Linked DNA regions of Homo sapiens: all the other regions are linked to region 5. Evidence: fine-mapped expression QTL. A gene starts in region 5. Each other region holds a variant in brackets. All regions are shown on one strand. Distances are from middle to middle. Region 1 overlaps PPFIA4 (PPFI scaffold protein A4). Region 2 has its middle 39 kb from the start of ELF3. Region 3 holds the start of MYOPARR (myogenin promoter associated myogenic regulatory antisense long non coding RNA). Region 4 overlaps PPFIA4 (PPFI scaffold protein A4). Region 5 holds the start of PPFIA4 (PPFI scaffold protein A4).

Region 1 (4,114 bases), 33 kb before region 5:
GGCCACAGTCCTCCAGGGCTCCTCACCTGCCACCCTGAGAAACCAGAACAAGCAGTTTGAGGGAACTGGGTGGGGGCGGGGGGCACTCTGATGGGAGCAGAGAACCTATGTCCAGGGCTTTTCATATGAAGGACTCAGAGATTCCTGCTGCGGAGAGAACCTACCAGAAGAACACTGTCCTGAAGTTTTGGGAGCTGGTTCTAGACAGGGTAGGGAGTCTTACCTGAGCCCAGCTGCCCTCCTCACTGTCCTAGCAGGAACGAGTGCAGCGTGTTAGGGGAAACAGGCAAAGTCAAGAAACCCATCAGCTCTACCCTAGGCCCCATCAAGGAGAGGAAAAAGACATCCCAGTATCTGGCTGGGTGACTGGGGAAAGCTCGTCAGGATGGTTAAGAGAGAACACAAGGTTGGTGTGTGCACCCATGTTTGCGTTGAGGTGGGGCAAATGTGTGTGTGGCAAAAACACACACCTCCCAGGCTTGACTGGGAGCCAGGCAAGATGCCCAGCTCTCCCAACACTCCCCATTCCTCCACCAGGGAGGAAGCACAAGGGCAGAGACTCTGTGGCTCAGGTCCATAGCAGGGCAAAGCCCTCCCCAGCCCAACTCTCCTCCGCTGTAGCACACCAGTGGCCCAGGGCAAGCTTGTGACCTCCTGGGAAGGATCACACACATACAAACTGCTCCGCTCCCAGCCTCACCCCTCTCCCGACAACCCTCCACCGTGACAGCAGATCACACCTCAGGGATACCAACCTCACGTGAGATCGATGGCAGCCCACTCTGACTGCCCACAGCCTTCCCCTCATCCTCATGGGAGTATCAGTCCCAACCCCAGGCCCAGGGACAAAGGCCAAGGGCCAGACTCACTGTTTTAGTAGATGTTTCCAGAGTTTCCATCTCTTCATGGGTGACCCAGACATTCCCAGAAGACTGCAGGCAGAGAGGAAACCTAGCTGGTCCTGGGTGTGGGTCCCCAGGATCCCCATCAGGCTGGGAGCCCAAAGGACAAGGACAAAGCTCCCTCCCTGAGTCCTCTGAAATGGGGGCTGGTCTCAATCATGGAGATGGCCGACAATGAAAGACTCCACCCCAGGGGCCCACAGAGCAGTCCGCATTCTTGTGTTAGAGGACCAAGACAATATTCACAAATGCCCTCTTCCCTTTGTTTCCCCCAACCTGACAACCATATAAAACCCCAGAAAGCCCATCCTGGAAACTGCCCAGAGACGTGGAAATTTTGGCAGAGTAGGGATGGGGAGATGGAGCCCCATGGGTGGTATGTGAAAGGCAGGGAACCAAGGCTGCTGGTATCCTCCTAGAATCAACATCATATCCTCCTGAAGACCAGGGAGAGCCCTTTGTGAGGATGGGAAGGAAGGGGCAGGGCTCAATGCTGCCATCTTCCCAAAGCCCAACAGGAGACCTTGCAAACTATGTTCCAGGACCTCTGAAAATGTCCTGGGCAAAGGAGGGGCCACTCACAGTCCTGGAGGTGGGTGGGGCAGAGGGGCTGGTCAATGACACCATCTCCTGAATGGCCAGGCGGAGCTTGAGCCGGTGCAGGGCATTGCTGATGCCGATCTCCCGCTGGATCTCTGTGTCCGACAGAGCGGACATGATGGCACCACTCTTGACGTTGGCCCGGCAGGCTGCCACATACCAGGCAGGCATCCCCACCCAGAGCTGCAGACACCGGGCACAGGGAGGTAATTCAAGGCCTGGGCCCTACCACCAAGAGTTTGGCAACAGCAAGGGGCAAGGGCCAGGCCTCATCCACGGACTCGAATAGCAAATACAGATCATAGGAATGTGGCGGTCATCAAACCCCTCACTCTCCCATTTTACAGATTAAAAGTAGCATCAACTCTCTCCTGCGACTGGTATGTGTGTGTGTTGGGGAGGGGGAGGGGGGCTAAATGCTAGGTATGGCACACTTCCACTTGGCAGGGGAGAAACACACTGTAAAAGTTCTAGGACACCACCCCTCTGCCCACCCCAAGCATCCTTCCCTCCAGACCCCTGAGTGGACTCCCTTTGCTCAGGCTTACCTCCAACCAGGAGACCACAGTAGGACCATCCCACTGGGCAAAGGGCATTCCTTTCCTGCGGGCATCTTCAAGCAGCTGGTGTCTTATAGGAAGAGGAACAACAGACTCACTAGTTCTTCCTTCTCCCTTAACTGTTCTTGCTCCAGGGACCACTGGGCTGTGCAAGAGCTGGAGACCCACAACCCTTGCTCCCCACCCTGGACTTCCTCTGCTCTGCTCTTCCTTCTTCCTCTGAAGAAATACAACAAGAAATGGGGCAGGAACACCT[G/C]ACCACCCCAAGAGGGCGAGGAGCTCTCTGTTTGCATGTGACCTGACATTGACTTAGAGATTTCAATCTGCCCTGCCAGAGACCCAGAGGACCCAGGTCACTGTCCCATAACCCCCTTGCCTCCTTCTCCCTAGGCTCATCCTAAGAACCTCCTCCCAGCCCTGCTGTGCCCACATGGACCAGACCAACTCAGTTCAGGAAGGGCCTTGCTGGGGTCTGGGTCTCTGAGCTCAGTTTCACAGCAGCCCAGGGGAAGGGAAGTGGGTAGGGGGCTGGGCCCCACCCTGGCAGACCCTGGCCTGTGGCTCTTACTTCTTCTTTAGCCGCCGGTCCTTCTCTGCCTGGGTCCCCAGCTTGGCAGGCACCATAGGCTCCTGCATACTGAATTCGGAGTCTGTTAGCAGAACTACAAGGAAAGAGATGTGTGTGTCAGCCAGCCCCTCTGCCTCTCCTCCCTTGCCTGGATCAGGGGTGGGGAACAGAAGCAGCAGGAGGCTCCTTGGCAGAGGACAACCCATGGCCTGACGGGACCATTATTCCTGGAGCTTCTGCTCAGTGTCCCTGCATCCAAGCAGTCTCAGAGAATGGCATCAAGCGGGTCATCCCCAGTTCAGAGAGTCTCCCCAGGAGCCTCAGCCTTGGGGGTGTTTTCCAGCCAGATGGACCCAAGTTATCGACCCTAGAATCCTAGACAGAACCTGTCCTTCCTCCAAGCCAAGGTGCAAAGGAAACCCAGAGCCCCAAACACAAGTGGGCTACAAGGCTCAGAGAGAAGGATGACCCTGGCTTGGGTCAGGGGTGTGGAAATCCACACACTGAGAGCTGTGTCTCTGAGCCTCCTTCTCTGGGTGCATTCACTTGCACAAAACCACAAAGGGGAACATGCAGAGTTCTGTCTTCTACTAAACATCTCCTTGAATTGATGCTAGAACCCTTCAGAATTCGTGGCCAGAGGCAGAATCTTAGAATTCTTTTAAGTCCCGGTCACCCCCCCACAGTGCACAGTAGGCAACAAGTTTGGGTAATCCAGAAACCAATCTGAGGTGCTGTCTCAGGTTTAGGTGCCAACGTGTGTGGAGAGCATCGAAAATCATAAGGCTTCACCCAAAATGCTTCTTCCCCTGATCAAACCGTTCAGCTTCCCCTGTCTGTGGCCAGCTCCACAACTCCCCTCACCCCTGTGGACTGGGGAAGAAGGAGCTGGACCTCATTCTCTGGGCTGACACTCCCATATTCTGAGCAGAGGTGGCCATGTTCCTCCTCCCCGTTCCCAGACCACCCCTTTCCTTCACACACAGACCTCTCCCTGTCTCAGCAAATTCCTCTTTCTCCTTCCTCTTTCCCCAACCTCCTCCTCGCGTGCTCTCCCTCCTCCTCCTCCTCAGCCAGCTAGCTGTCTTCTGATTCACATCTTCCTGAGCTGCAGAAAGGTCTAATTATGCATTTGGGTCCAAAGGTTCCTTTATTCTAGTTGATGAGTTCCTCCCCTGCACGAAATTCATCAATGCTCCCACTGCCTCAGGGGAACTCTTAAACTAAAACAGATGCTGCAAGGCCCTCACAGCTGGCCCCAGCCTAGCTGTCCAGTCCCATCTCCCCACTCCGCCCACCCTCCTCCTTCTCAACTCAGAATATGCATAAGTACATACCAACCTCTCACACCCACAAACTTTTGCCTTTCCCAGACCAACCCCTTCCTCCACACACAGATGTCTCCCTGGCTCGGCTAATTCCTATGTGGCCCTCACACTTTAGCTCAGGTGTCGCTACCAAAGGAGGCCGCCCCTGTTGTCCCC
Region 2 (4,114 bases), 980 kb after region 5:
CCAGCTAATTTTTGTATTTTTAGTAGAGATGGTATTTCACCCTGTTGGCCAGGCTGGTCTCGAACTTCTGACCTCAAGTGATCCTCTCTCCTTGGCCTCCCAAAGTGCTGGGATTACAGGCGTGAACCACTGCGCCTGGCCCCCACCAACTTTTTGCAAAATATTTGTAACAGTAGAACTTGGTTGGAATATTATTCGGCAATAAAAAGTAGTGAAGTACATCCAACAACATGGTGGAAACTTGAAAAGGATATGCCAAATGCAAGAGCCAATCCCATAAGACCGTAAGTTGTATGATTCCATTTATGTGAAATGTCCAGAATATCCAAATCTATAGAGACAGAAAGTAGATTAGTGGTTGCCAGAGACTGAGGGGAGAGAGAAATGGGGAGTGGCTGTTAATGGGCACAGCGTTTCTTTCTGGAGTGATAAAAATGTTCTGAAACGAGCTAGTGGTGATGGCTGCACAATTCTGTGAATGTATTAGAAACCACTGAAGTGTATACATTTAAAGGATGAATTTTATGGTATCGTGAATTAAATCTCAAAGAAGCTGCTATTTTTAAAAAGTACATGGCTATTATATGATTCAATCAGTGCCCAATGGGTAGAAAGAAGAAATGAAAAATCATATTAAATTCTACCCCCAGAGATAGCAACTGACAGCCTATTAGTGAGTGTCCTTCCAGACATTTTTCTGGCAATGTACACTCTTACAGATAGACAGAGTTACTCTCAATCTTTTCTAAGATCAAAAAACCTGAAGACCGTGACATACTCCTCGGTAACCTGGGCCAACCTCAAGAGTGAGTCTCGCCAGGCGCGGTGGCTCACGACTGTAATCCCAGCACTTTGGGAGGCCGAGGCGGGCAGATCACCTGAGGTCAGGAGTTCAAGACCAGCCTGACTAACATAGTGAAACCCTGTCTCTACTAAAACTACAAAAAGTAGCCGGGCACAGTGGCGGGCACCTGTAATCCCAGCTACTCAGGAGGCTGAGGCAGGAGAATCACTTGAACTCGGGAGGCAGAGGTTGCAGTGAGCCAAGATCGTGCCATTGCACTCCAGCCCAGGGAACAGAGCGAGATTCCGTCTCAACAACAACAAAAACATTTATTTATTTTTATTATTTTTTTGAGACAGAGTCTCGCTCTGTCGCCTAGGCTGGAGTGCAGTGGCAGGATCTCGGCTCACTGCAAGCTCCGCCTCCTGGGTTCATGCCATTCTCCTGCCTCAGCCTCCCAAGTAGCTGGGATTACAGCCATCTGCAACCACGCCCAGCTAATTTTTTGTATTTTTTGTATTTTTTTTTTTGAGACGGAGTCTCACTCTGTCGCCCAGGCTGGAGTGCAGTGACGTGATCTCGGCTCACTGCAAGCTCCGCCTCCCGGATTCACGCCATTCTCCTGCCTCCACCTCCCGAGTAGCTGGGACTACAGGCGCCTGCCACCACACCCGGCTAATTTTTTTATTATTTTTAGTAGGGACAGGGTTTCACCGTGTTAGCCAGGACGGGCTCGATCTCCTGACCTCGTGATCCACCTGTCTCGGCCTCCCAAAGTGCTGGGATTACAGGCGTGAGCCACCGCGCCCGGCAATTTTTTGTATTTTTAGTAGAGATGGTGTTTCACTGTGTTAGCCAGGATGGTCTCGATCTCCTGACCTTGTGATCCACACACCTCAACCTCCCAAAGTGCTGGGATTACAGGCGTGAGCCACCGCGCCCGGCCTAATTTTTGTATTTGTAGTAGAGACGGGGTTTTACCATGTTGGCCAGGCTGGTCTGGAACTCCTGACCTAAAGTGATCCGCCTGTCTCAGCTTCCCAGAGTGTTGGGATTACGGGCATGAGCCACTGCACCTGGCCTAATTTTTCTTTTCTTTTCTTTTTCTTTCTTTTTTTTTTTGAAGTGGAGTCTCACTTTGTAGCCCAGGCTGGAGTGCAGTGGGCAGATCTCGGTTCACTGCAACCTCCGCTTCCCGGATTCATGTGATTCTCCTGCCTCAGCTTCCAGAGTAGCTGGGATTACAGGTGTGCAGCCACCACGCCCTGCTAATTTTTGTAGTTTTACTAGAGTTTCACCATGTTGGCCAGGCTGGTCTCGAACTCCTGACCTCAAGTGATCTGCCCTCCTTGTCATCCCAAAGTGCTGGGATTACAGGCATGAGCCACCGCGCCCAGCTCCCACCTAATTTTTCAATTATTCATAGAGATGA[G/A]GTCTCAATGTGCTTCCAAGGCTGGTCTCAAAGTGCTAGGCTCAAGCAACCCGCCTGCCTCAGCCTCCCAAAGTGATGGGATTTCAGGCCTGAGCCACACAGCCCATCCCCAGAGAGATTCTCTTCATGCAGCCTGTGATGTGGTCTGCAGACTGGTTGGTACCAGTCCATGCTTAGAAACTATTAAAGTAATTTGACAGAAAAATGTTACATCTGTTCAACCCAATAACAACAACAACAGCAACAACAAAATGGGCTTATAATTTGTATATCCTTTCCTTTCCTTCTTTTCATTTTTCCAGCAATTCATTTTTATTATGCTTTGCAATAATTTTAGACTGGAAATTAAAAACAACCTAAACCAAAGCAAAAACAAAATTGGTCCTTTTTTTTTTTTTTTTTTTTTTCAAAATTGGTCCTTCACAAATAGTTTGAGAAGCTCTGGTCTACAAGACCTGGGCTGGTGTCCAGGCTCCACCACTGCAAGGTAACAACTTGACCTTGGGTGAGCGGCCCAACCTATATGACTCTTATATTTCCTTATAAGTAGAAAGGGATAATAATAGTACCTACTTCACAGGGTTGTTGAAAGACTTAGATAACATATGCAAAACACATGCCTACGTAATAGGGGTAGTTCTCCCCACCCTTTCCCGTCTGCTCCCATTCTTTCTAGTGACTCTGGGATGATATATTCTGAGAGATCAGGGGAAACCCAGCTTAAGAAAGAACGATGGAGCAATAAGTGCTGGAGACAGGCAGAGTCATGGCTCTAAAGAGTCGGGGAACAGCAAAGAGAGCTAGAAAATCTCTTCTAGAGGGAGCAAGAGCTGTACAGAGGGCTTCAGCCTTCCAGGGTGCCTGTGTTAGGAATAGGACTAACCTGTGAAGGGCATCAGACTATGGCAAAATAATTATTTTGGGCTGAAGGCAACTGAGATATAGCTGACACAGGAGAAGCTAGCTCTCCGCCCTCTCTCTGCCTAAAAGCAGGGCATAAGTTTCCCTTTGTAAAAGTGACATATTGGGGCCAGAAGTGGTGGCTCATGTCTGTAATCCCAGCACTTTGGGAGGCTGAGGTGTGTGGATCACTTGAGGCCAGGAGTTCAAGACCAGCCTGGCCAACAGGGTGAAACCTCATCTCTGCTAAAAAATACAAAAATTAAGGCCAGGTACGATGGCTCACACCTGTAATCCCAGCACTTTGGGAGGCTGAGGCAGACGGATCACCTGAGGTCGGGAGTTCGAGACCAGCCCGACCAACATGGACAGAAACCCCGTCTCTACTAAAAATACAAAATTAGCTGGGTGTGGTGGTGCATGCCTGTAATCCCAGCTACTCAGGAGGCTAAGGCAGGAGAATCGCTTGAACCCAGGAGGCGGAGGTTGTGGTGAGCCAAGATCGCACCATTGCACTCCAGCCTGGGCAACAACAGTGAAACTCCGTCTCAAAAAAAAAAAAAAAAAAAAATTAGCCAGTGTGGTGGTGGGAACCTGTAATCCCACCTACTCAGGAGGCTGAGGCACAAGAATCTCTTGAACCTGGGAGGTAGAGGTTACAGTGAGCCGAGATTGTACCACTGCACTCCAGCCTGGGTGACAGGTGAAACCCTGTTTCAAAAAAAATCCTGAATAATCCTTATCTATTGTTAGTTTCCCCATATATTTACTTTACCATAATTTACCACCCTAAAAGGAAAAGGCAGTAGGCAGTGAGCCATGGACCTGGAGGACCTTGAACAATTCCTTCTAGAGCTGAGAGACAGCCTGGGGACTGAGAACAAAAATCGCAGAGCTAACAGCCCATATGGATGACAGATGATATGACCTGGGGAGACAATCCCAACACTCCTTGGAGGTTGAGAACGCTTTCACTAGAGGAAAGGTGTGGAGGAAAT
Region 3 (4,114 bases), 57 kb before region 5:
AGTTCACCAGAGAAGACTGCTTTGCCCCCATCCTGGGTGTGGCTGAGCAGAGAGAAAACCCACTCAGTCTCATTGGAACTCCAGCAGGCCTGCACAGAGCGACCTTCACTGGGCCACAAAATCTGTCTCCATCACCCTTATCGCCAGAGTCAGGAGAACCAGGGACCCCTTTAAGCTGGTGTCCTGTGAGAGCAGAACCACCACCCAGGATGGAAGCCAGGAAGGCCTGGAAGCAGGGCCTCTGGGGTGTGAGAGGAGCTAGTTACAAAGATTCTGGGGTTGGGGATGGCCTGGGCTGGAAGGCCACAGCCTGTGGCCCACCCTCCAACCCCACCACAGGTACTTCTGCCCACTGGGACTAGGCAGAGAGAGACATCAAAGAATGGCTGTGCCCCGACCTTGGGCCTTCGCCCTGTCTTGCAGGTGCCCAGCGAATGCAGCTCTCACAGCGCCTCCTGCAGTCCAGAGTGGGGCAGTGCACTGGAGTTCAGCGCCAACCCAGGGGGTAAGTAAGGCCTGACTGGTAACCTTGGCTCCAATCCCTCAGTCCCTCCCTGGGCCAGGTTCTCCCCTCTTACCTTATTCCTTGCTCCGGTCCTCTTCCCTTGGGTCTCTCTAGGGACCTGCTGACTCCAAGGCCCAAAGGGTGGGCTGGGAGGTTCTGTGTGCCCCTGCAGTCTTGACCAGCAAAGGAGTGATAGTAGCTCCTGCAGCTCCCCAGCTGATGCCTGGTGGTTGACCTTCTCCACAGAGAGGACAATGTCCCTGCCCCAGGGGTCCCTGTGAAGTGCTGAGTCAGTGCTGCAAAACTGGGCCGAGCAAAGGGCAGGTCCAGTCTCTGGGGAGCTCCATCCTGCTCCAACTTGAGTGGCTGCTTCCAAACCCTACCTACTAGGGGAGTTCAGAAAAGAGGCGCATACACACACACACACACACACACACACACACACACACACTCACAGAGCATGGGGAAAGGCAGGGACTAGGGAGTAGAACTCCGGAGCTTTGTCATTCATCTGTCCTGGAAAACCTCTGTCACCCCAAGGGTCCCATCCTCTATTCTGGGCCTCAAGAACCCCCACTGCTCACCCAGGTACCACCTTCCCACCTCCCCTTACAGATCATCTGCTCACGGCTGACCCTACAGATGCCCACAACCTGCACTCCCTCACCTCCATCGTGGACAGCATCACAGTGGAAGATGTGTCTGTGGCCTTCCCAGATGAAACCATGCCCAACTGAGATTGTCTTCCAAGCCGGGCATCCTTGCGAGCCCCCCAAGCTGGCCACAGATGCCACTACTTCTGTAGCAGGGGCCTCCTAAGCCAGGCTGCCCTGATGCTAGGAAGCCAGCTCTGGGGTGCCATAGGCCAGACTATCCCCTTCCTCATCCATGTAAGGTTAACCCACCCCCCAGCAAGGGACTGGACGCCCTCATTCAGCTGCCTCCTTAGAGGAGAGGGCATCCCCTTTCCAGGGAGGTAAAGCAGGGGACCAGAGCGCCCCCTCGTGTATGCCCCAGCTCAGGGGGCAAACTCAGGAGCTTCCTTTTTATCATAACGCGGCCTCTAATTCCACCCCCCAAGTGAAACGGTTTGAGAGACGCAGTGCCCTGACCTGGACAAGCTGTGCACGTCTCCTGTTCTGGTCTCTTCCCGATGCCAGTGGCTGGGCTGGGCCTGCCCTGAATTGAGAGAGAAGAAGGGGAGAGGAACAGCCCTCTGTTCCCAAGTCCCTGGGGGGCCAAACTTTTGCAGTGAATATTGGGAACCTTCCAGTGGTTTTATGTTTTGTTTTGTTTCGTGTGTTGTTTGTAAAGCTGCCATCCGACCAAGGTCTCCTGTGCTGAAGTTGCCGGGGACAGGCAGGGAAAAGGGGTTGGGGCCTCTTGGGGGTGATTTCTTTTGTTAACAAAGCATTGTGTGGTTTTGCCATTGTTTTGTATTTTTTTTTTTTTTTTTTTTTTTTGCTAACTTATTTGGATTTCCTTTTTTAAAAAATGAATAAAGACTGGTTGCCAGAAGAGTGTCGGTGATGATGCAGAGGGAGGGAAATGACTGACAGCCCTGCCCCTTCCCACTGAGCAGTCCAGACACACCCTAGTGGGTGGGGCTCCACAGCGCTAAGGGCCTCATCTTGCTGGTGGTCACTAGGCACTGGGGACCCCTGCTCTTTTCACCATGATAAAGGAAATCGAGCATGTCTGGACCTCAGTCTAGGTGGAGACCAGATTCCACAGACATCCTTGTGGGACACGGAGGACAACTGGCTATGACTATACTTCAAAGCCACTGCTCACAGGCTGCTGTGCTCTGTGTTATGTCCCAACAGGTCCGCTGGTTTCAGTTAACTGAGCACCTCGTAAGCCCAGTGCTCAGCCCACAGCCAA[G/C]GTGCAGAGCTAGAAGTTGTGGTTTCCCTTCCCTAGTCCCCACCTCTGCCCTGGTGTCACAATACCAGGAGCCCTGTAGAGAAGTGGGAGGTGAGGAAGGGGGATCAGACACTGTCATTTCCTTGCGGGCCAAATAGCATGGCCCCTCCCCATTCTCCTCCATTCCCTTCAGGCCGAAGGGGATTGTGGTTCCTGCTTGCAGCTCCCAGCATGAAGGAGATTCAGATTTAGCTCGGGGAGGGTAAAGGGGTCCACAAAGAACAATCGAAGAGAAGCTGGGGTTCTCTTCATTTGGGGTGCTATTTTCAAACATTAGCTTCCTGAGGTTAGAAGGTGGGTGGGAAATTGAGAACAGAGATTTTTGGGTAGACATTACATGAGGATTAACTGGGGAGTTAACAGGAGCTAGAATTCAAACGGAACATGGACATCTACTGAAAACTTTATTAATTCCAACTGCCTGGGGCTAAGTTCATCAGATTTATTGCAAATTATAAGTTTCAGAATCATCACCGAAGCAGGGATTCAGAGCATGGTACGTTCCAGCCCTGCTTAATCCTTCGGGGCCCTTGACAACGGACTTAACCCAGTGTTGCCTGAGGCTCTAGCGACCACCCTGCACCAGCTCCGGGCTCAGCTGGGCCATCTCTCCCACACCCACCCTCCTGACCTTACTGCTGGAGAGGAGAGTTACCACTGTGCCCCCCGAGTTTCTTCAGAAACTCTGCCTAAGGAAAAGAATCAGAAGAAGCCTCTGGAGGCTCCCAGAACTCAGGCGAGGGTGCAGAAGGGAGGGTCTCCCCCACTGCCTGCTTGTCCCAAACCAGTCAGGCAGGGCTTATTGGGAATTGCAAATTGGCCTACTCTGCTCCCATTGGTGGGATTTTCTTCTTTTCAAGTTGGTATCACTGAGTTTAGTCTTTCCCCCTTGGAGGGGCTGGAGAGGAAGACCAAGGTCATTTCCATGACTCTTAGCCCTGATTCACTGCCCTGGGGAATGAGGAGGGCAACTGGGTGGGCTGCAGTGCCTTGGCTCTGGAATCTACATTCACTCCCTTATTACCCTCCGAAAATACTCAGAACACATTCATGGAGGATCGTCTCCCTTCAAGTTCATTTCCTCTGCCCCTGGCACCTCCCACACTCCCAGGGTGGAAACCACCCTCTCCCCTGCAGCTATGACCTGCCCATCCCTTGCCCTCCTTCTTACTGGGATAAGAAGGGCTGGCCAAGGAAGGCACTCAGCTCTGCTGAAGGACAGGTTCTGGGGCTGCTGGATATATTTTTTAAGTCTGCTCCTCTTCAGTTATCCTGACAATTAGACAGTGAGGGTCACATTCAGACTCGGGAAAGAATGAACAGTCCTCAGCACTGTAGTCACTGTCTACTTACTTTTTCATGTCTTTAAGTCCTTAAGGGAAAAACAGTTTGCTAGAATTCCACAGGTGTGAATGGCAAACTCTGCTAAGCAGCAGGCCAGCCTCACTCGTTATTTTCACAGAATAAACAATTGTTATCGAAGCATGGGGACTTTCTTAAATTAGCAAATGCTTAATCTTCACAACAGAATTACAGAAAAGACTCCAATTAATGAATAATGAGTTGGAGTTCTTTAGGGAGATTAGCTCAAATTTGTTCTTTAGTTGGAAGCACCTACAATAAATCAAACTGTATTAATCAAATGTTGCTTAATAATGGACTTTAGGGAATCCACTACAATGAAAA
Region 4 (4,114 bases), 43 kb before region 5:
TTAGCCCAGGGAAGGCAGAACTCATGAACCTCAATCCAACGAAGATGACCAAATCCCCAAGGCTCCTAATTCATGGCCAGGTACTCACGTCATCCAGCTTCCGGTCTGTGCCCAAGGCCAACAGGTTATTGAACTCTCTTTCCATCACTTGGCGTGCCTGCAGTCCATAGAGCAGGAGAGGGAAAGGTGGGAAGGGCTATAGTTAACTACCTTTATGCCATCTTTCACCATTTTCCAAGGGTCCAAGGTCAGAGATGCAAGGCTCCAGTGCATTTAGCCCATTAGAGGCCTTTACACACCTTTTTGAAGCTGCTCCTTCAAGCAAACTCATAAGTAAAGCTGTAAGCCTAGGATTCTTTCATATACAGCAAATTAGAACAACATAATTTTTTTTTTTAAAGTAGTGGCCGGGCACTTTGGGAGGCCGAGGCGGGTAGATCACAAGGTCAGAAGGTCAAGACCATCCTGACTAACACAGTGAAACCCCGTCTCTACGAAAAATACAAAAAATTAGCCAGGCATGGTGTGGCAGGCGCCTGTAGTCCCAGCTACTCGGGAGGCTGAGGCAGGAGAATTGCTTGAACCCGGGAGGCGGAGCTTGCAGTGAGCCGAAATGGCACTACTGCACTCCAGCCTGGGGGACAGAGTGAGACTCTGTCTCAAAAAAAAAAAAAAAAATAGCAGTCTTGGCAACATACTGAGACCCTGTCTCAAAAAAAAAAAAAAATTTAATTAACTGGGCATGGTTGTGAACACCTACAGTCCCAGCTACCAGTTAGTTGGGCAGGAGGATAGCTTGATCCCAGGAGTCTGAGGCTACAGTGAGCTATGATCACACCTGCACTCCAGATCGGGTGATAGAACAAGACCCTGTCTCTAAGAAAAAAAAAAAACAAAAAAGTGGGATCATAGAACACATAGATAAAGAGACGTCACCTACTTGGAAAAAAAATTGTCTGAAAGGGGAAAATTGTGCCTGTCTTTCTCTTTCTGGAGGGGTAAGTAAGCATGTAAACCATGGATAACCAGAACATGACTGATTTGGATTAAATAAATATATCTGATAAGTTTTCACATCAAAAACTTAAAATTAGGAAGCCTGCTCAGCTGTGGATACTGGTTGTCCCTGGGCTGTGTGCATACAGACTCTCTCTAGGCCTCCCAGGAGATTAACTCATTCAGAGTTTTCAGAAATGCCAAAAACAGAAAAGTTTTCAAAACTGCTACCAGATATTTTTAACCTTTTTTTTTTTTTTTTTTTTTGAGGGAGACAGGGTCTCATTCTGTTGCCCAGGCTGGAGTGCAGTGGCACAATCATGGCTCACTGCAGCCTTAAACTCCTGGGCTCAAGCAAAACTCCCGCCTCAGCCTCCCGAGTAATTGGGACTACAGTCACGCATTACCAAACCCAGTTAATTTTTTAAACTTTTTGTAGAGACTGGGTCTCACTATGTTGCCCAGGCTGGTCTTAAACTCCTGGCCTCAAGCAATCCTCCCACCTTGACCTCCCAAAATGCTGAGCATACAGGCCTGAGCTACCACACCGAGCCATTTTTAACCATTTTAAATGAGGGATTCCGTATTGGGTCACACACTACTTCTCCCAACAGCTAAGCTCAATGACGGGGTCAGGAAATTAAGAAAGGTTAGAAAGCCATAGGGAGGTGTCCCTGCTACTATTTACAGAATTACTGCTATCCTCCAAAACTGAATGCATTAGAGATAGGAAATCAAAGAAAGAGAAAAGTCCATTTCTAGGTAGAAAATATTAAGCGTAGAGTTCCATAAGGACAGTCTGTGCCAGTATTGGGAACATAACATTTTTAGAAATGATCTGAAAGGAGAAGCACAGTAAATTTCAAGTATCCAAATGACACTGCTCCTCTGGGCAGTGAAAGGTGAGGAGGATAGGTGTAAATTTCAGAAGCGTCTCACAAAGAGAGGTGAGTGGGCAGCAAAGTGGCAGACGAGGCTTGCCCGAAGTGGGCAAGTGGAGAGAACGCACTTGGGGGAAAAATCCAGGCTCCTCTTGGAGAATGAAGGGATCTGTCCTATCTATTTTGACTGGTTGGGGTGGGGGCGGGGCGGGGGGGTCACTGCAGAATGCCTACAGGACACAATGGCCCTGTGCACTGCCACCACCCCCAAAAGGCCAACACACTGCCCAGAATTACGAGACAACACAGCCCTACCCTCATTCAAGCCAAAACGTGTCTGCTCCCAGAATAGCCTGTGCAGCTCTGGTGGCTGAATTTCAAAAGAGATCTGACAGCTGCAAACAGTCCAGACAAGGGCAGCTAAAACAATCAGGGGACAGAGGCGAGTCTATATGAGGAAAGCCTAAAAGAATTAAGAACACTCCGTCTGGAGAGACAAAGGCTTGGGCCCAGAGGCAATACAATCAGAGTTTATGAAATCATAAAAGGTGAGAACTAGTTAAATACAAATATCCTTACCAAACCTAAAC[C/T]ATCAAGAGGAGGTAGTTCCTTCCCCAGGGGCCTGACAGGGGCATTTTCAGGACAAATAAAATCAGGAAGTACTCTACACAACAAGCAGTACTTCTAGAATCTATTACCCACAGGAAGTTAGAAAGGCCAAAAATATAAATAGGTTCAAGAGAATTTAGATATATTCTTAGATGACAGCTCCATAAAAATGATGAAATGTAATTTCATGAGATGTTTAATCATTTGAGCTGTTGACAGAGAGCCAAAGCCCTGGTGTGGAGAGGCTCTGGGTTGTGTAATTTGGTATATTTAGCTTTTTTAAGGCTGGGGGCCCAGGAGCAGATCCCTAGGGTGGTAGACAAAGGTGATATGGGCTCTCTGGTCCCTAGGGGCCCTGGGGCTCATTCCCCTCTAAGAAAAGTCAGATCAGAGAAGCAGGATGAAAAGGAAGGCTCAGAGTCTCAGCTATGAAGTGGGGTTAGGAGGAGATAGAGGTACCCAGGGCAGGACGGGGATGCGCATTGTAAGAGCACACTGTGTGCCAGGCCCACGCTAGGTGTGCTCTGTATGTGAAGGCCATGTGTTCCCATGAGGGCTTGCTTATGCACAGCGATCACTTGGAGAATTGAGGACATTGCGATCCCCTCTGGCATAGGCCCTAGAAAAGCTCCCCACCCCCCAAGATACCTAAGCCTTTGTGTATGAGGGAAAGAAAGAGAGCAAGTGAGGGATACAGGGAGAGACTCAAGTTGACTGATTAAAAGGCTGCCCACCTGGGTGTTCTGTGTGGGGATCTGGAGGATCAGGGCCAGTGTGTTGTGGTCGAAGTTCTCGTCCAGGGCCAGCAAGGCTCCATGCACACCACTCTCATGCAGGTTTCCTGCGTAGTCCCGGAGCCCAATAGACTGGACCCAATGAACCACCTGGTCGTTGGTCCAGACTAACACATCTGGAGTGTGGGGGAAGAAAAGGGACGGAAGGAGATACTACGTTTCATCAAGGGCCCTCCAAGGACAGAAGCAGAGCTCCCTAAACCCAGAGCCGCAGTCCACCCTGCTCTCTGACCCCCACTCCATCCCTAAATTTCCATATCTTCTTTCTCTCCTCCCTGGCACCTGGGTGCCTGGGGAACCAACCCCCCACTCACTCCATCCCTGCCAGTTTACAGGACCCGGGGTCAGGCCAACAGGCTCCAAGCTTTCTCCCCAGAACCCTTGCACGGGTCATCCCCCTGACCCAAGCTGGAATGGCCTTCTTATTCTTTCCACCTTCAAGGTCTCCTCTAAGACTTGCATCTCCCATCCAGCCCCATCCAGATCAACAAGTTCCACAGGCACACCAGTCTATAACACCGTCCCAGAGGATTCACTGCATTTGTCCAGTTGGTGGCTGCTATCTGGTATGTGGGGTTGAGGGAGGGGAATTATAGACAACTTGGCATGGACTATGTCTCCTCCATCAGACTGGGAGCTCCCTAAGGTGAGGCTGCATCTTCCTTTTCAGACTGGAAGATTCCCTGAGACACAGAATGCCTCCCCTCCACTTGGCCCAAGGCAGGGACCAGCCAAGCAGGCTGCTCCCGAACCCTCTCCAAGCCTGACGAGCTTACCCTTGATCTCATGCTGGCTCTCCTCTCGCCTCTTCTCCAGCTCCTTCCGGTCATAATT
Region 5 (4,114 bases):
GCCTTCATCCCCACCTCATCACCACCACAGCCTGACTACTCATTCTCTTGCCTAGCTCTAGCTCTGCCATCCTCAGAGGCTCTGTGAGGACCTATAAGCCATCCCTGACAACTCTTTCCAACTCTAAGATTTCAGCAATCAACTCAGAGATGAGACCCAGGAGCCTGGCTGCCTGCCATGCCCTGCCCCTCCAGCCCTCCTTTACAGCCCAGCAGCCAGACCTCATGCACCACACGGTTCTGACATCACGACATGCTCAGCAGCACAAACCCCAACTCCACTGGATGCGAATTCCCTTCTACACCCTCCTCCCCCACACTATTCCATCTTCCAGAGATGGCGTCTCCCACTACACAGAGTGTCTAGGACATTCTTGGCCCCCAATAACCATTTTGTCATTCATTATCTCCTTACTTTGAGATACCGTTTACCCCACGAAGCCTCCTCAAGCCTCAGGACAAAATCTGAGAAAATAACCAAGGGAAATCATTCAAGCTGCCCTTTTGCTTAGGCAGCTTCCCTGGGACTACCTGGCCAGTTAATAGTGGTAGGGGGTGTGTAGGTTGGAGTCTAATTCAGACAGCTGTTTGAAAGCACGTGGACACAGTTCTTTCTTTTTCTAATCCAACAGCAATGTAACAGAATGGGGATGGGCGGTGAGAAGGGTGTTAACAGAATACCTGCTATGTGTGCCTCCTATGTGTACCTTTCAGCTACTCCGTGGCTGTAAATTGCCTTCAGAAGACCTAGCACCGAGCATAGTATCTGGCAGATAGTAGGTGTCCAACAAATGTTTGCTGGATGTTGAGCAAAGTACTAGGTACCAGATCCAAGAACTCTGGAAAGGACTATGGGAAATCCCTGAAACCTGGCTCCTGGAGGGGACCCTTAAGCTCACACCAGGAGGGGATCTCCCTGCGAAGCAGCGCCTCCTTAACCACTTGCTCTCCACACAGAACGGCCCCAACTCTCCTGCTCCTCTGATGGAAACTACCAGCACACCTCTCCTCAAAGGTGACATCAGCTCCTAGTGGCACCTTGTCCTGGATCCCTCCTCCTTCTCGAAGAAAACCACCTACACCATGTCTCCAAGTCCTCCAGCCCGACCTCTCTCTTCCCACCCACCATCAAAACCTCAAAATCTGCGCTGGAAAACATCCCTACTGCGTGGACGTAAGTCAGCGCCCCACTCCCACCCTCCCAGTTCAGGCATCTCTATTCCAGCCCTCTTTTCCTGTTGCGCCCACCCCTGTCCCCACCCCCACCAGGCCTCGGGTTGGCCGCTCCTTCCACCCCACCGCCCTGGCACTGCGGAGATGGGGGCATCTCTGGCACAGACTGAGGCTGGCAGTTCGAGGAATGGAGAGCTAGCGACAGGAACAGGGGTGCTATGAGCAACTCGGGAAAGATTAAGACCCCCGCGAAGAGCGAAGACCTCAGCCCATCAGAATCGCGTCCCCAAAGGAGTGGGGTTGGCCCCGGAGCCGAGAGGCGCTTTTTCTGACTCTCCTGGAGGGGAAATGGGGGCGCAGTCTGCTCCGTTCCCACCGGGAGACTCGCCAACTCGGCCCCCTCCCCTGAAGCCGATGGAGCAGAGGGCGCACTCCACGCCCTCCCCGCAGATCAGGCATCGCCCCTATCCTCACCCCCAAGGGCACAGGGCACCGCAAAGGAGGGCGAGGGGCGGCAGGGTAAGCAGTACCGACGCCTGCCGGAGGTAGCACATACGGAGTCAAAAAGGGCTGTTTCCCGAGGTGCGATAGACGAGACCCCTCCCCAAACTGTCGAGGGGAGCTGGAGATGGGGAAAAGACGCATCCTACCCCAGTCCAGGCTCTGGGCGCTCACCTGCCTGCAAATGCCGAAGGCCAGGCGGCTAGGCTCGGAAGCAGCAGGGAGCCGCCCCCGACCCGTGCAGCCCGACACGTCCTAGAGCCGAGCCGGCGCCGAGGTAGCTGCAGCCTCCGCCGCCCAAGCGCGCGGCCGCGGGGCCCCGCCCCCTTCCTCCGCGGACAACCCCCCCCGGCTCCGCCCCCTAGGCGGGGCTGGGCTGCCGCGACCGAGGCCACGCCTCCCGCCCCCAAGCGCCTCGGGTCCGGGCACGTGACGAGAGCGCCGCTTTGAGGCCGCGCGCCATCTTGGTTCAGCCTAGGAGGTGGCGAAGTGCCAGAGTTTTATTCCGCAGAAGGGTCTCAGGGCCCAGGAGTGCTGCCCACATTCTGCCCCTCCCTCTGAACTCGCCCTTGTTCCTAGTCTAACAGCCCGTTCCCTAAATTGGCCTTAGTCTCGGCCTTGTAATTGTCAAGTTTGTCACCTTTCACGCTTGCTCTCCTGCCCGTTCCTTGCTTTTCCTTTGATCGCACCCATTTTTTAAGTGGGGAAACTTGATATCCGGATACTACATCTGTAGTATGCTCTTCAGTGAATTGTGTCGCTTGCCTTCAGGCACCTGGCTGTTCTAACACTGTTACTACAAAATGAAGGGTTTGTCTATTACATATACATAGTATGAAAACAAGTCTCAAATGCCAAAATTCCTGACTGACAAATTTTAGCTAAGCCTCTCCATTTTCCTGAATTGCTCCCTTACCCTGCCCCCTGTGGCTATTAATGCATCTTTTCCATCTGCTTTGTGAAGTTTCATCACAGTGCCTACTCAATCCTTTACCAATACCCAGTAAGCACCACTAAAAGTGTGAACAATTTTTATATACATGCAATGTGTTCATGTGTGTGTATTTATAGATATATACACAGCATGTTCTATATCAGCAGCAAATGCTATAGTTGAGATCAGTGACACATACAACCTTCTCTCATTTATCTTCCACCCAATATATTCACCATTTGGCATAATTTCCTTGCGTCTCTTTGAAGACAGGGAAATCTTGAGTAATTCTGATCTGAGGGGTGGGTAAGTGAAGCTAAATCTGTGACCCTTGAACAACAGGGCCTTCAACTGCACAGGGCCAGTTGCATGCAGATTTTCTTCCTTCCCCGCCACCCCTGAGACAGCAAGACTACCCCTCCTCTTCTTACTCGTCAGCCTGCTCAACATGATGACCCACTTAATGAACAGTAAATGTATTTTCTCTTCTTTGATTTTCTTAATAACATTTTCTTTTCTCGAGCTTATTATAATAAGGTATATACTACATATACAAAATGCACATTAATCAACTGTTTATGTTATCAATAAGGCTTCCAGTCAACAGTAGGCTATTAAGTTTTCGGGCAGTCAAAAGTCATAGCAGATTTTCAACTGTGTGAGGGTCTGTGTCCATAACTCTCACAGCGTTCAAGGATCAATTTATGTTGCTTGACAGAGCAAAATCACAGTATATAACCTGTAGTCCAGAAAGTTCTAATTCTTCTTCGGGTGGTCTGGGGTCCTCACCAAAAGGAAATCCCTGAGACACTTCACATCCTGTCACTAATAAAGCATGTATCATGCTAGAAACGGCAACTCAGCCAATGCAGAGGAAGGCTGAAGCCAAGATAACGACTGGTAACACATTTTACCAAATGTTTGTCAATATTATGCTGAGAGAGAGCTGAGGCAGTATCTAGTACTGTATCTGTCACCATACCATGGAATTTGACACAAAAAACTCAGAGCTGAGTCAGAATACAATTATTAAGCCAAATTTATTTCACCCCCTTTTTAAAGGTACTCCTAAGCGGGGAACAATGCACCAAGACACTCCTGCTCCATGGCATCTTTAGTTCAGGCAACCTGGCAGGGACTGTGCTTCTCCCCTCCTGCCTCAAAGAGGCAACTTTTAATTGTAGAGATCTGCAAAGTGCTCATTGTCCTTAGGTTGTCTGTTATCACTCAAATGCCCAAATTCTGTTTTTGACTGACCCAGGCTCACTCTGTGTGAACAGTTTTAATACCACCCTCAACGTGGGATAAGGTTAGCTGTTAGCAGCAAAATTAAGCAGATGCTTTCTAGGAATATTCCTAGGGAAGATGGTAAAAAAAAAAAAACAAAAATGTGAATTTAGCAGTTTGCCTCACAAGATTTTCACTTTTAAAGAATACTGTCTTAATGCCCACCTCCTGGCAATATCCAGGTAATATCCAGCTCACTGGTTAATTTTGGATGGTGGAG

Evidence for each region.
Region 1: its variant is fine-mapped to the expression of PPFIA4 in blood mononuclear cells (TOPMed, PIP above 0.99). The same link has a PIP of 0.9 or more in monocytes and whole blood.
Region 2: its variant is fine-mapped to the expression of PPFIA4 in sigmoid colon (GTEx, PIP 0.97).
Region 3: its variant is fine-mapped to the expression of PPFIA4 in whole blood (TOPMed, PIP above 0.99). The same link has a PIP of 0.9 or more in neutrophils.
Region 4: its variant is fine-mapped to the expression of PPFIA4 in whole blood (TOPMed, PIP above 0.99).

Annotation. Positions count from the first base shown.
Region 1 is chr1:203,057,788-203,061,901 of GRCh38, reverse strand. PPFIA4 (PPFI scaffold protein A4) reads right to left here. Exons shown (of 30, transcript NM_001304331.2): 20 at 2,631-2,724; 21 at 2,051-2,132; 22 at 1,485-1,685; 23 at 870-932; 24 at 224-250. Among named protein-coding and RNA genes, the nearest start is that of MYOPARR, 24 kb to the left of the region's middle. RefSeq lists an enhancer at 309-893. The variant G/C (reference allele first, on the strand shown) is at 2,319.
Region 2 is chr1:202,048,022-202,052,135 of GRCh38, reverse strand. No RefSeq gene overlaps it. Among named protein-coding and RNA genes, the nearest start is that of ELF3, 39 kb to the right of the region's middle. The variant G/A (reference allele first, on the strand shown) is at 2,217.
Region 3 is chr1:203,081,038-203,085,151 of GRCh38, reverse strand. It overlaps MYOG (myogenin), which reads left to right. Exons shown (of 3, transcript NM_002479.6): 2 at 424-505; 3 at 1,121-2,023. The coding sequence ends at 1,242. MYOPARR (myogenin promoter associated myogenic regulatory antisense long non coding RNA) reads right to left here and starts at 1,357. Exons shown (of 3, transcript NR_160550.1): 1 at 1,173-1,357; 2 at 579-780. The variant G/C (reference allele first, on the strand shown) is at 2,390.
Region 4 is chr1:203,067,735-203,071,848 of GRCh38, reverse strand. PPFIA4 (PPFI scaffold protein A4) reads right to left here. Exons shown (of 30, transcript NM_001304331.2): 26 at 4,057-4,114; 27 at 3,221-3,396; 28 at 89-157. Among named protein-coding and RNA genes, the nearest start is that of MYOPARR, 14 kb to the left of the region's middle. RefSeq lists an enhancer at 2,333-2,382. The variant C/T (reference allele first, on the strand shown) is at 2,468.
Region 5 is chr1:203,024,363-203,028,476 of GRCh38, reverse strand. It overlaps PPFIA4 (PPFI scaffold protein A4), which reads right to left and starts at 1,986. Exons shown (of 30, transcript NM_001304331.2): 1 at 1,848-1,986. It overlaps TMEM183A (transmembrane protein 183A), which reads right to left. Exons shown (of 8, transcript NM_138391.6): 8 at 3,629-4,114. RefSeq lists an enhancer at 1,539-2,060 and a silencer at 1,887-2,196.